Homo sapiens: one gene and its partner. The protein of the gene in region 2 interacts with the protein of the main gene of each other region in a pairwise test. Each region holds a gene or a part of one and is shown on either strand. Other genes may lie near its edges.

Evidence for each region.
Region 1: the proteins of ARIH2 (region 2) and SOCS6 interact in binary tests that used the Homo sapiens proteins (3 or more experiments, as listed by UniProt).

What each region holds. Positions count from the first base shown.
Region 1 is NC_000018.10:70,284,573-70,292,059, reverse strand, and holds the start of SOCS6 (suppressor of cytokine signaling 6), read right to left. Parts: upstream 3,016-7,487; 5' UTR 2,970-3,015; exon of another isoform or gene 2,768-2,969; intron 2,393-2,767; exon of another isoform or gene 2,193-2,392; intron 2,164-2,192; exon of another isoform or gene 1,336-2,163; intron 1,320-1,335; exon of another isoform or gene 1-1,319. UniProt on the Homo sapiens protein: SOCS family proteins form part of a classical negative feedback system that regulates cytokine signal transduction.
Region 2 is NC_000003.12:48,970,823-48,977,842, reverse strand, and holds part of ARIH2 (E3 ubiquitin-protein ligase ARIH2), read right to left. Parts: exon of another isoform or gene 7,002-7,020; intron 4,145-7,001; coding exon 4,027-4,144; intron 3,179-4,026; exon of another isoform or gene 3,027-3,178; coding exon 2,976-3,026; intron 2,886-2,975; coding exon 2,864-2,885; coding exon of another isoform or gene 2,795-2,863; intron 1-2,794.

The DNA.
Region 1 (7,487 bases), on a different chromosome or scaffold from region 2:
AAATCAGTTTAAGTAAACTGTGTCCTCAGCCCTAAAGCCATCACGACTTATTAGCTAAACCAACACGCCAAACAGCATAATAAATTACCCATAAAAACATTAATGACAATTTCACTTCAAAACAATATCAAACACATCTTACGTTGTTCCTCTTTTAACAGCTGAACAATTATTTCTATCAATCTAGCCATATAAGAAAGTTTCTCCTTTTTATGACATATACTAGTATTTGGAATTTCTCCCTTGTAAAATGAATAATTTTACAAAAGTACTTCGGCACCACAGATGTAAATATAATTTCCAGAATTGGAAGAGGTCACGAGTGCATATTTTTAAGAGAATAACAATAATTGAGTCCCAATAAGCCCATGATAAATTGAAAATATCTTAAAGTCAAAACTCACAGTGGGTTTATCTGGATGTAAGTCGAAGTGCATACTAAATGTGTATCGTTTTTGCTCCATCAAAAAGTCAAAAAGTCCAAAATTGGGGACCATCTATATGTTTGGACTTTTAAATAAGATCACACCTCTATGAGCAAAATAAAAGATATGATCAATAACCCAAAAGTTTCCTGAAAACTGGCCATAATGGAGAAAACTAGCAAGATTTTTCTCTAAGGAGTGTAGTTACACAAGAAGGCTTAAGAGGACACTTGCAGGCTGGGTGTGGTGGTTCGTGCCTGTAATCCCAGGGCTTTGGGAGGCTGAGGTGAGAGGATCTTGAGGCCTAGAGTTTGAGACCAGCCTCGGCAACACAGCAAGACCCCACCTCTCCAAAAAACAATCAGCCAGGTGTGGTGGCACATGTCTGTGGTCCAAGCTACTCAGGAGGCTGAGGGAGGTGGATCACTTGAGCCCAGGAGTTCAAGGCTGCAGTGAGCCATGATTGCACCACTGCACTCCACCCTGGGTGACAGAGGAAAAACAAAAAAGAAGATACTTGCTTTCTGTTTCCTAAAAAAAGGGGGGCCATTAAAAGAACACCTTTTCCAGTTCTAATGCAAGAATGAAGAAAAACACTGGAAGGCAAAATGACTAGAAACCCAGTCAGTACAGCACCATTTTCCACCCTACGCCCAGTCAATGGCTCTCAAATTCCTTCCCTGCCACTCCCTGCGGGGTGGGGGGCCCACCAAGAGAGGGGGTCATGGGATGACCCGAGGGTGTGCGCTTGGGTGGGAGGCCCTGCTGAAGAGAAAGGGGCAAGACTACCAATTTAGAGGGTAATTTAGAAGATAACGATAAAGGTAAGAGAGAAACAGTGTTTCAAAAGAGATGCTGAATGGAGTTCTAAAAAAGTATAGATTCGGGTGAATACCTGGCTGACCCTTACCCAGGCACAAGCGGAAAGCCCTGGCCAAACTCCAGATAGAAGTTCTTCTAGGAATCCTTATCAAATCCACTGTCCACGAACCAGGTTCCTCCAAGGCACCAAGGCAGGCTTAGGGAGGGTGTTTGAACCAAAGGGTTAAGGCCACATATTTAATTTAGAGCTGAATGGATCCTAGACCTTACCATATCCACGCGTGCACAAAACCCACTAGGAGGAGAAATTAGAAAGCCCACGGAAAAGTATTACAGACTTTTTTTCCGGTTTTTGTGAAACCTGGTGAGCAATGCCATTCGTGTTTTTAAGTAAGGCTGTCCACAGCATTAAATATTACAATTAAGATTCGTTCATTCAAGTAAGCTAAATGGATTTAATGTTGTGGTAGTTGGTTAAAAACAAGTCAAGATAAATTGCTACCTTCAGTGGTTGAGAAGATGTCAGATATTTTATCTTGAAGTAGAACGTTTACTTTTGTTTGATTCCAAATGTATCTTTATCCCAAGGAACACAGTAAATTTAAAATGTCTCTGGGAGACGTTCAGTGTGTAATTCACGTTATTTCTGTCATTACTGTGTTCTCTGTCCTCATGCACAGTGCATGCTGCCTTATCCGGGCAGACGTTGCAGAAACATTTGTTGAAATGAATTCAACATTATTTATTTTGCTACCGGAAGACTGAGTCCCGCCACATATTCCCACCTGGCCCTTCATTCCAAACAGTGGGGATGGGAACCCCAATTTCACATTCCAACTGAACGTTAAGTTGGCACACACACTACTGCACATATCCCAAGTTTTGTGCCAGGATCTGCCCCTGAGAAACGTCCATAATTCTGCTCCGTGAGCCACAAGGGTGTACCTGAAGTTGCCAACTCCCGAAGCAAACTGAAAATTCAGGCCCGTGTCGGTCCCAGGAGCGGTTTAAATTCCACAATCGTCCGGTCCCTACACCCGGGTGAGTGCGCAGCCGGCCGGCGGCACCTTCAGCCGCAGAGCAGCCCCGGCCTGCACCTCCACCAGCGCCGGCGCGACCTCGCGGTGGGGCGGGGGCGTCCCCGAGTCCCAGCGCCGCGCCCCAGGCCCGCCCTCGCGCCTGCGGCCTCGCCGCGCCCCGACCCCGAGCCCGAGCCCGAGCCCGCGGAGGTCCGAGGAGGGACCCGGCCGGGGCGCAGAGCCGCGCAGGCCCCGCGCCGCTGCCCAGGCCTCGCGGAGCCCCGGCCTCTCCCCGGCGAGCTGCGGGCAACAAAGGCGGCGGCCCAGGCCGGCGCGCCGCGGCCGAAGAGGCCGAGGGGTCGAGAAGAGCCGTCCGCGGCCGCGCAGGCCTCGGCCCTTCAGGGGCCGCCGCGCCCCGGCCCCGGCTTCCCGGTTTCCGCGTCCCCGCTCCCGGGACTGGCCCCGGCCCCCGTTCCCCGGCCCTGGCCCCCGCCCGCGCACCCGCCGAGACGGCGCAGGGCCTCGCGCTGACCCAGACCCGTCGCTGCAGCCCCGCGCCCGGCGGCCTCCCTGGCCCGGCCCGCGCCGGATCCGCCCCCTGCACTCCGAGGCGAAAACCAGCCGTGTCCCGGACCGCGGGCGACCCGGAGGCGGACGGCGAAGCCCTGCCCCTGCCTCCCGCCCGAGCTCCCCGGACGCTTACCCGGAGGCGGCCCGGCTCCGCTTCCTCGCCCAGCGCCGGCGCGACTGCCGCGCTCGCCTTCTCCTCTCGGCAACTCCTCCTCCCGCCTCCTTCCTCCTCCTCCTCCAGGAGGGGCGCGCGGCCGCGGCGCCTCGGCCCGAGCGGGGAGCGGGTGCGGAGGAGCCGAGCGGGCCGCCCCCCGTCCACTACTCGGGCCCGCGGCGCAGGCGGGGCGTCGGGGCGCGCGGGGCTGAGGCCGGGGGCCGCGCGGGGCGGGGCGGGGGCCGGGCACTAAGTGGGGGTTCCGAGGGGAGGGGCGCCGGGCCGGGGTCGTGGGGCGGACGGAGCGCGGAGCCCTGATCCCTTCCCCCACCCCCGCGCCCCTCCGCTGGTGCCTGCAGGAGGCCGCTCCTCCGGCCCCCAGAGTCCCTGTCCTGGTTTTTCCTTTGGTGCTTTCCCTCTGGCGGGGGTGGCCCCGGCTAACGCGGAAAGGAAAGTCTCCTCGTTCCCCGGCCCCGCGGATTTGGCGGCTGCGGTCCCTGTCCCCCTGTGGCGGGCGGTCGGACCCCCGCACTGCCCAGGTCCGCTGGGCTCGCGCGGGGACCCCGGCCTCGTCCCCGCAGGGAGGGGACCCCAGGACAGACGCGCGCGCACGCTGTGCAGAGCCACAAGTGGGGAAACCCTCCCCACACCTCGACTAAATTGTGAAAAATGCTTTTTAAAAAACCAAACATTCCTTGTTTCAAGCCATCCACTTTTCCATTTAGTCGTTTTCAGGGAGGTTTTGTACAAGGAATAGTTGTTTGTGCCGCCGAATTCCAAGGTAGTGTGGTATACAAGTTGCATGTTGGGATCTTGACTAATTTCTTTGGAAACTGGCTGAACATACTACTAATGTATAGCAGTACCACAAAAACTTGATTTTTGTGCATAAGAATCAATAGGAAAATTTGTATTTCTCTTACGATGAAAAGTGGTTAAAAAAATGAATATCATTAGTATTTCAGTAAAGCTTGGGGGGAGATAAATATTAAAATCTAATGAGAATTATTGTGGACTTTAAAAGTTGTGTTTCTTGAATAGTATGGACCTTTTTAAAAGAAAACCGAAAGGACAGAGAAAAAAGGGCTAGAAAAAAAGTCTAAAAAGCTGTTCAGGTATGAGTTGGTACCCGAATTATATCTCAATAAAGTTGTTAGTTACAAAAAAGTTCAAGTCCAGTAATCTTAATTCCTATGTCCAATATACAATCTGGATTTCCCCAAGAAATCTAGATTCATAACAGAAAAGTTGGATCTTTAGGTGATGCAAAGTTGATGTCATGTATCATACACTATCATTGTCATCTTCAGTTTTTACTTGAATTTATTAATAAAATACTACCATTATTGTTACCGTGATTGAAATGCAACACAATTCTCAAATATCTAATTACAGTGATTGGAGAATGTAGGTTGAAATAGAATTGTCAGAGAAGTTAGTGGGAAACACAACAAACAGTAATTAACGGTGGCTCATGCCTGTAATCCCAGCACTTTGGGAGGCCGAGGCGGGCGGATCACAAGATCAGGAGATCGAGACCTGCCTGGCCAACACAGTGAAACCCCATCTCTACTAAAAATACAAAAAGTAGCTGGGCGTGGTGGCAGCTGCCTGTAATCCCAGCTACTCAGGAGGCTGAGGCAGGAGAATCGTTTGAACCCGGGAGGCGGAGGTTGCAGTAAGCCGAGATCGCACCACTGCACTCCAGCCTGGGTGACAGAGCTAGATGCCGTCTCAAAAAAAAAAAAAAGAAAAGAAGCAAACGTTTCAATCCTACTGCCTCGGAGTTCCAGTGTCTCCCTATATTTTCTAAAATGACAACCAGTAGGAGCTGTGCAGCAGGGGGTTAGTGAGCCTTTCACGCAGCAATGGGGCTGTGCAGGATGGGGAAGTGTTGACTCTTTTAGGAGACACTTAAATGTATGGTTAAGACCCTGGGGTTCTGAGTCTGGCAGAGCTGGTGCAGAAGCACAGTTTTGACAGGTCATACAGCTGTGTGACCTCAAACAAGTTTCTCAGTTGGAACCTCAGTTTCTACTTTTGTAAAGGGTGAGTGAGGGGGCTCGATATTAATTATGTCAAATAGTTGTAAGATTACATGAAATAATGCACAAAAACCCCTAGGGGCCTAATCTAGGTAATAAAACTTCATGAGTCCGGCCTTGCATTCAGCTCTTTTGAATATGTCATATCCTTCAATTTTCATATCAATCCTATAAGGTCAGTATTAACATCACCGCCATATTTCTGATGAGGAAACTGAGACTTGCAGTGTGATAGTAGTAATTTACTCTCCCAAAGTCACAGCTACTGTGGGGCAGAGTTGGAATTCAGGCTTAGGCCTCTGTGATTTCAGAATATGAGCCCTTTACCACTACATAGTGATAACAATAACATAGCAACAACTTCAGGGTAGAGATATTAGTGTCTAGATATACTATTAAAATCTCCATGCATGGCTGAATTCCAAACACTTCTTGGCCATAAACATGTGATATCTTCTTGGCTGTCTGCCAATGAACCCTTTTTTCCATCAGCACTCACTCTCCGTTTGGAGGAAATCTTATCTTTGCCCTAACAACACCCAGCACAGCTAAGATATGTGCCCATGACTCACCTACTTAAACTCTTGCCTAGGCCAGACAGGGAGGCTTACACCTGTAATCCCAGCACTTTGGGAGGCCAAGGCGGGAGGTTCACTTGAGGCCAGCGATTCGAGACCAGCCTGGGCAACATGGCCAGATGTCATCTCTACAAAAAATTAAAATATTAGCAGGGCGTAGTGGCATGGAGGTGGGAGGATCACTTAAGCCCAAGAGTTCCAGGTTGCAGTGAGCTATGAACATGCCACTACACTCCAGCCTGGGCAATAGAGCAAGACTCTGTCTACAAAAAGAACCAGGCTGGGCGCAGTGGCTCACACCTGTAATCCCAGCACTTTGGGAGGCCAAAGCCAGTGGATTACTTGAGCCAGGGAATTTGAGACCAGCCTGGGCAACGTGGCAAAACCCTGTCTCTACTAAAAATACAACAATTAGCTGGGCGTGATGGCGCATGCCTATAGTTCCAGCTGTTCAGGAGGCTGAGGCTGGAGGATTGCTTGAGCCCAGGAGGCAGAGGTTGCAGTGAGCCACTATCATGCTACTGCACTCCATTCTGAGCAACAGTGCGAAACTCTATCTCAATAAACAAGCAAGCAAGCAAGCAAGAAAGGAAAAGAAACCAGAAAAGAAAGAAAAGAAAAGAAAAGAAAAGAAACTCTTGTCCAGATGCTTACTGTTGTGCAAGTGATATAATCATGGAAAGCTCCTGGAAGAGGATGGGATCACATCTACTGTAATAAGGTACCTGCACCAAATTGATCCTGGTGCCAGTCCCCAAAGCCTTCTAATAAATCCCTGTTTTGCTCAAGATAACCAATTTCTGTTGTTTACCGTTACAAATGCTGTCTGATAGATATGCTTGTTAAAAAATGGGGATAGCCACTGGTCATATTGAAAATCTATCCTCTTAACAGTGACAGGGGAGCACAGTTCCACTGCTTCCTCCTAGAGCAATAGCTTATAGAGCCAGAAGCACCCTTAATGATCATCCTCAACATCCTCTTTTTACAGACATGAAAACAGTCCAACATCCTCATTTTAAGGAGGAGGAAACAGACTGAGAGATCAAATGATTTGCCCAAAGTGACAAAGTTTTGACATTTCCCAATTTTGAGTCTTGTTTGATTTCTAATATTAAACCTCTTCCCTTCATCTAAAAGGGGAAAAAGAGAAGTCTAGACTTGAGAAAACTGGGTGGAAGCTGGGTGGGTTACAGTGTGCAGCCTTCCATCCTAGTCCTGGTGATTCAAGTACAGTCATACCTCACTTAACGAAAGTGCTATGTTCTGAGACAAGCATTACTAGGTGATTTCGTCCTTGTGCTAACATGATAGACTGTATTTACACAAACCTAGAGGTAGCCTACTACACACCTAGAATAATAGGGTATAGCCTGTTGCTTCTAGGCTACAGACCTGTACTGCATGCTACTGTACTGAATTATGTAAGCAAATGGTAACCCAATGGTATTTGTGTATCTAAACATATTTAAACATAGAAAAGGTTCAGTAAAGATACAGCATTATAATCTTACAATGGGATCACAGTCATGTATGCCATTGACCAAACCATTATTCGGTGCGTGACTGTACATCCTTAGTGCTAAAAGCACTCTCGGGGCCCTGTGAAAAGCTGCAAAGCAAGCAAAATTTACCACCCTCCACTTCCTTCCCTCCCTCCCATTGCCGTTCTGCTGTTCCTGCCTTCCTGTCTTGATGGTTTAGGCGCCATACTCCACACACACAAATTTCCCTTGCATGGTACTTGTCCTGGGTTACATAATGTCCTCCAAAGAAGCGTGTCCTTTCCAGAACCTTAGAATGTGACTTTGTTGGAAGTGGGATCTTTGCCACTGTTAAGTTGAAATGAGGTCCTGCTGGGATAGAGTGGGCCC
Region 2 (7,020 bases):
TCCTGGGAGCCTTCACCTAATAGTGGCAACAATGCCCTCTCCTTAATTAGCTAGGTGTGCTTGCTACCATTTTAAAGAACAATACAGGCCGGGCACGGTGCCTCACGCCTGTAATCCAAGCACTTTGGGAGGCCAAGGTGGGCTAATCATGAGATCAGGAGTTCACAACCAGCATGGCCAACAAGGTGAAACCCCGTCTCTACCAAAAATACAAAAAATTAGCTGGGTATAGTGGCGGACGCCTGTAATCTCAGCTACTTGGGAGGCTGAGGCAGGAGAATCGCTTGAACCCAGGAGGCGGAGGTTGCAGTGAGCCGAGATCGCACCACTGCACTCTAGCCCAGGCGACAGAGTGAGACTCTGTCAAAAATTAGCTGGGTATGGTGGCATGTGCCTGCAGTTCCAGCTACTCAGGAGGCCGAGCAAGGATAATTGCTTGAACCTGGGAGGTGGAGGTTGCAGTGAGCCGAGATCGCACCACTGCACTCAGCCTGTCAGCCTGGGTGACAGAGTGAGACTCCATCTCAAAAAACGAAACAAAACAAAACAAAAAACCACATTCCCTACGGTTGCCCATATAGGTGGTATAAAACATACAGCAAAGAAAGAGATGGCAGTTTTTTGTTTGTTTGTTTGTTTTTGAGACGGAGTCTCACTCTGTTGCCCAGGCTGGAGTGCAGTGGTGCGATCCTGGCTCACTGCAACCTACACCTCCCTGGTTCAAGCGATTCTCCTGCCTCAGCCTCCCGAATAGCTGGGACTACAGGAGTGCGCCATTGCGCCTGGCTAATTTTGTATTTTTTTTTAGTAGAGATGGGGTTTCACCATGTTAGCCAGGATGGTCTCGATCTCCTGACCTCATGATCCGCCCACCTCGGCCTCCCAAAGTGCTGGGATTACAGGCGTGAGCCACCGCGCCCAGCCAGTTTTTTTTTTTTTGAGACAGAGTCTCGCTCTATCGCCCAGGCTGGAGTTCAGTGGCACAATCTCGGCTCACTGTGACCTCCACCTCCGGGGTTCAAGTGATTCTCGTGAGATGGCAGTGAACTCTGGGTGTCAAGGGATATGGACACCCAGGGGGCTTCTTAGGCACTAGGAATGTGGTGGGTGCTGGGATGTTTGTCATTATTCTTTAAACTCTGTGTCTTCTGCATTGTTCTAAGTGTATGATACACTTCTCTCTCTGATATATACAAAGAAAAAGAGAGCGAAAGAATGTGGCCCCACAGAAGAAATATGCCACTACCCATGGCCTATCTTCGTTTGGCACTGCAGAGTCAATGTTGCTGTCTAAGATCCTGGCATGACCACTCTGATTGAGAGGGCTCCTGGGGCCGGGAGCGGTGGCTCACACCTGTAATCCCAGCACTTTGGGAGGTCGAGGCAGGCGGATTGCCTGGGGTCAGAAGTTCGAGACCAGCCTGGCCAACATGGTGAAACCGCATCTATACTAAGAATATAAAAATTATCCAGGTGTGGTGGTGGGCGCCTGTAATAGCAGCTACTGGGGAGGCGGAGTGAGAATCGCTTGAACCCAGGAGGTAGATGTTGCATTGAGCCAAGATCACACCATTGCATTCCAGCCTGAGCGACAAGAGCAGAACTCCATCTTTGGAAAAAAAAAAAAAAAAGTACAGGCTCGGTGGCTCATGCCTATAATCCCAGCACTTTAAGAGGCCAAGGTAGGCGGATCACCTGAGGTCAAGAGTTGGACACCAGCCTGGCTAACATGGTTAGACCCCGTCTCTACTAAAAATATAAAAAAGTAGCCAGGTGTGGTGGTGAGTGCCTGTAATCCCAGCTACTCAGGAGGCTGAAGTGGGAGAACTGCTTAAACCCAGGAGGTGGAGGTTGCAGTCAGCCAAGATCACACCACTGCACTCCAGCCTGGGCGACAGACTGAGACTCTGTCTCAAAAAATAAAGAAAAGAGGGTTCCTGGAAATAGCATTTGCATAGGCCCTTACAAAGCAAAATTCTCGGTCGGGCACAGTGGCTCACTCCTGTAATCCCAGCACTTTGGGAGGCCAAGGTAGGGAGATCACCTGAGGTCAGGAGTTCGAGACCAGCCTCGAACATGGCAAACCCCCATCTCTACTAAAAATACAGAAATTAGCCAGACGTGGTGGAAGATGCCTGTAATCCCAGCTATTTGGAAGGCTGAGGCAGGAGAACTGCTTGAACCCAGGAGATGGAGGTTGCAGTGAGCCAAGACTGCGCCACTGCACTCCAGCCTGGGTGACAGAGTGAGACTCCTTCTCCCAAAAAAAAAAAAAAGAAACTGTCAGGGGCTCCTGTTGAGCATCAAAGCAGCTGCGTAGAAGACCCACTTGGACATATTTTCTACTTGAAGGGATTCTGTTTCTTCAGTTGACCTGGCCGGATGGCATACATGGGTTCTAGCTATGTAAATTATTCCTGATGGATGAAGGAGGTCTGAAAGGCTAAATCAAAACCCCCACTAGAAACTTTGTAAAACGGCAAGGGAAAACCATTATTTTACTACTTCTGGTAAAGGTATCTACAACGTAGCACAGATAAGCCCCAAGCTACTTACCTGCCTTGGCAAAAAAATGAAAGCAACACCCTGAAATCATCTTCTTGGATAACTGAGGATCATGAGGTTTATCCCAAACTTGACTTCTGACTATATGTGTTAGCAAGATAGCAGTGGGATTATAAGAGGGACCAAAAAACAGAAAATAAAAATAAAAAGCTACTTTATGCCAGTTACTGTGACTGTTAAGTGACTGAGGTTCTTCTATGTTTTGTCATTTCATGGCAGAAGTACTCACTTAAATAGTAACGGAGACCCAACCACAAGAAAGTGCCACTGGGCCTTACACACCAAGCTTGGAACTCACCGTGTTTACATTTGGAGCATTGCTGTCAGAGGGAAACAGAAGAAAACACGTTAAGGGCACACTGACCAAAGCTTCCATGTCACACATGCAAACTGCAGAGGCTTCTGCTCACCATGTGATTGCAGCCTCCATTCTTCTCAATGCAGATGTTGCACTTGGGACACTGAGGAGACAGAAGGGTGCCATTAGGCTCACACACCACCAGGTTGGTTTTAAGACAAATTACACAAAGCTCCTGGCACCTGTGCCCAGTTGCTCATGGTGTGAGCACTTCTGGGGAGGAGCACCTCACTTAAATGTGGCAGGTCGCTGAGGCTGGAACAGCAATTCAAGGAAATGAGGTCAGCACATTTAGCTTTGAAATGCTTCAAGCACCAGCTGAACCCCACTAAGTCTTCCACCATCTGCCCCTGCCATGAAGCTACTCAGATTAAGCACAAGTTGAATCAGCAGAAAGCCTGCCTTCTTGAGAGGACTGCCAAAGAAGCACAGGAGCTGCCACAATGGATTCAGTCCTGGTCAGCTTGCCTGAACTTCTGCTTCGAGAAGAGGGCAAGGAAACCACATCTAAAGCTCATCTCTCCCATTTGAGAGATGCCAGCAACCTGAGGCAGCAATGAAGACACCAGTCTGATGCTGTGATCTCCCACTGCCGTGAAGTCGACTATGTTTAATAATGTCGTTATCGTAACTGTGCTTGTGAGTGCACTGACTCGGCGAGTGACTGACAAAGGGTACAGTGGCCCCTAGAGCCCACAGGCCATACTTTCCCATGGGAGACTTCAAAATGAGTATCGTGCAGGTCTGGGCTTGCATTACAGCCTTATATGTATCAAGTGTGGCTATTAACCACCTCCCTTTCAGGGCTGTTAAAGGCTGGTAGGCGTTCAATCATAATTAGTTCTCTTCTAATTAGCTCCCCCTTTGGGTCCCCCTTTCCTGGCATTTTGGCATTTCATCATAATAAAGAAAATATGCACCCAATGCATCCTATAATAAACTGCTACGAGCTGCCAACTCTGTGTGAGGGTCCCCAAACCCCCAGTCCTCAGGAAGGGTCCTGGGGCTCTGGGTATTCTGCTCTCAGATGGCAAATCTCCAAGGCAAGGCCCTGGGCAGCACTAAGGAGGGCAAATCCATGAGAGGTAAAATACGGTCCTTACGTCTTTAGTGTGAGCACTAATGTAGTTGGCTGTTTCAGAGTCGTCTGCACACTTCGTGAGCCATTTCCGGATTGTGGCACAGTCTGTGGGTGCGTGATACATCTGACGACACTTGAAACTTAAAATTGGAAAAGAAAAACATTCAAATATTCATTAAGTCAGGGTCCCATGTTCAAAATTTTCCTTTTATCCAAGCCAACAAATCATGAATTAGAGCTTTTTTCTTTTTTTTTTTTTTTTTGAGACAGAGTCTTGCTCTGTCGCCAGGCTGGAGTGTAGTGGCGTGATCTCGGTTCACTGCAAGCTCTGCCTCCCGGGTTCATGCCATTCTCCTGACTCAACCTCCCGAGTAGTTGGGACTACAGGTGCCCGCCACCATGCCCGGCTAATTTTTTGTATTTTTAGTAGAGACGGGGTTTCACCGTGTTAGCCAGGATGGTCTCGATCTCCTGACCTCGTGATCCACCCACCTCGGCCTCCCAAAGTGCTGGGATTACAGGCGTGAGCCACCGCGCCCAGTCTAATTTTTGTATTTTTAGTAGAGATGGGGTTTCACCATGTTGGCCAGGATAGTCTTGATCTCTTGACCTCGAGATCTGCCCGCCTCAGCCTCCCAAAGTGCTGGGATTACAGGCGTGGGCCACTGTGCCCGGCCTAGAGCTTTTCAAATAGGTAAAGTTATCTCTCAAGGCTTGTGGAACCTTTACCTACCCAGAGTTATACTGAAATACTGCATGAATGTCTCTTCAACTTAAGCCTTTGTAAGACATGCTCTAACACGCACAAATAAAATATTTCTGTAGGCCGAGTGCAGTGATTCATGCTTGTAATCCTAGCACTATGGAAGGTTGAGATGGGAGGACTGCTTGAGCCCAGGAGTTTGAAACCAGCCTGGGCAATATGGTGAGATCCCATCTCTACAAAAAATGAAAAAATTAGCCAGGTGTAGTGCTATGTGTCTGTAGTCCCAGCTACTAGAGAGTCTAAGGCAGGAGGATTTGCCTGAGCTCTGGAGGTCAAGGCTGCAGTGAGCTGTGTTCGCATCACTGTACTGCAACGTGGACAACTGAGAGAGACCCTGTTTTTTAAAAAAAGGATTGCTTTAGACCAGGAGTTTGAGACCAACCAACCTAGGCAACATAGGAAGACCCTGTCTCTACAATTTTTTTTCTGAAATGGAGTTTCGCTCTTGTCACCCAGGCTGGAGTGCAATGGCATGATCTTGGCTCACTGCAGCCTCTGCCTCCCTGGTTCAAGTGATTTTCCTGCCTCAGCCTCCTGACTAGCTGAGATTACAGGCTCCTGCCACTATTCCTGGCTAATTTTTGTATCTTTAGTAGAGACATGATTTCACCATGTTGGCCAGGCTAGTCTTGGAACTCCTGACCTTAGGTGATCCACCCGCCTCAGTCTCCTAAAGTCACAGGGGTCCTAAAGCTGGGGTCACAGGTGTGAGCCACCACACTTGGCCCCTACAACAAATTTAAAAAAATTAGCTGGGCATCTGTAGTTTCAGTTACTTGGGAGGCTAAGGCAGAAGGATCACTTCATCCCAGGGGTTTGAGGCTGCAGTGAGCTATGATATGTATGTTAAATACCTTGTTTAAACATCTTGTTTACCAACTCCCAAGATGTCAAACACAGAGCTATGACTCTCAAAGGGCATGGTGAGGTGCTCTGAGAAGGACTCCTTAGCTCAGACCTAAGGCAGGATTGAGACCCACTTCCGGGAGTCTCATCGGATCTCCCAGTCAGATATGCACACAAGAATGCACAAATGCCAGAACGTGCAAAATCTGTAGGGTCATGATACATCTGATGACACTGAAACTTAAAACAGAAAAAAAAGACACTCCAATATTCGTCGGGCTAGGCTTCCATATTTTGAAATTTTCTTTTGTGGAGGCCAACAGTACTTTGTGGCTAGAAAAGGCCCTCAGGCAAATACCCAGGGAAAGAATTTCATAAAGTGGGACACAAGGATAAAGAACAATTACAAGGAGTCTTCTGAATCTGCTGTGATCCTGGGGGCTGCCGGATTTAAAATGAAAGAACCACTGCATTAGTGATTCTTAACCTTTGGTGTCAATAATGTCTTGAAATGCAGGCATGTGCGTACACACACACATCACATTTTCCATGTAGTTTCTCTGAAGCCCCACCATGAATATTCCAGGGAGGTATGATTAGGACAGATCTGGGCCTAAATTATGGCTCTACGATTTACTAGGTTTACCTTGTACCTTGATTTATTCATAGAATATAAGGGTCATGGCTAGGCGCGGTTGGCTCAATCCTGTAATCCCAGCACTTTGGGAGCCCAAGGCGGGCAGATCACGAGGTCAGGAGTTTGAGACCAGCCTGGCCAACACAGTGAAACCCTGTCTCTACTAAAAATACAAAAATTAGCTGGGCATGGTGGCACATGCCTGTAGTCCCAGCTACTCAGGAGGCTGAGGCAGGAGAATCACTTGAACCTGGAAGGCGGAGGTTGTGGTGAGCCAAGTATGTGCCACTGCACTCCAGCCTGGGCTACAGAGAAAGACTCCGTCTCAAGAAAACAACAAAAAAAGAGAGAATATAAGGGTCATATACAGTTGTGATAATGCAGGGTAAGTGATCAGGATAGTGCCTGTCACCTGGTAAGCCTTCGGTAAACTTTAGTTATTCCCATGGTATCTACTGAATGAAGTGAACCTTGAGTAGATGTAGAATATATTTATGACTTAGTTTAACAAAAATTAGCCAAGTAAGGCCAAGACAGAGAAAGATTAAAATGTTCAAGTTTATATCTTTCAAACACAGTAATATGTGATTAGCTATGCAGGCAGATACATCCCACACAATCTCTGGGCCATGAGACCTAGTAGCATAAGCCACAACACATTTTCCAAGAACCTGTGTCACTTCCTTGCCTCCAGACTGAGCATGTATTGAAGACCTAGTGGAATATGAGATGCTGGACATAAACCTACCCACTTGGAGCACAGCTGT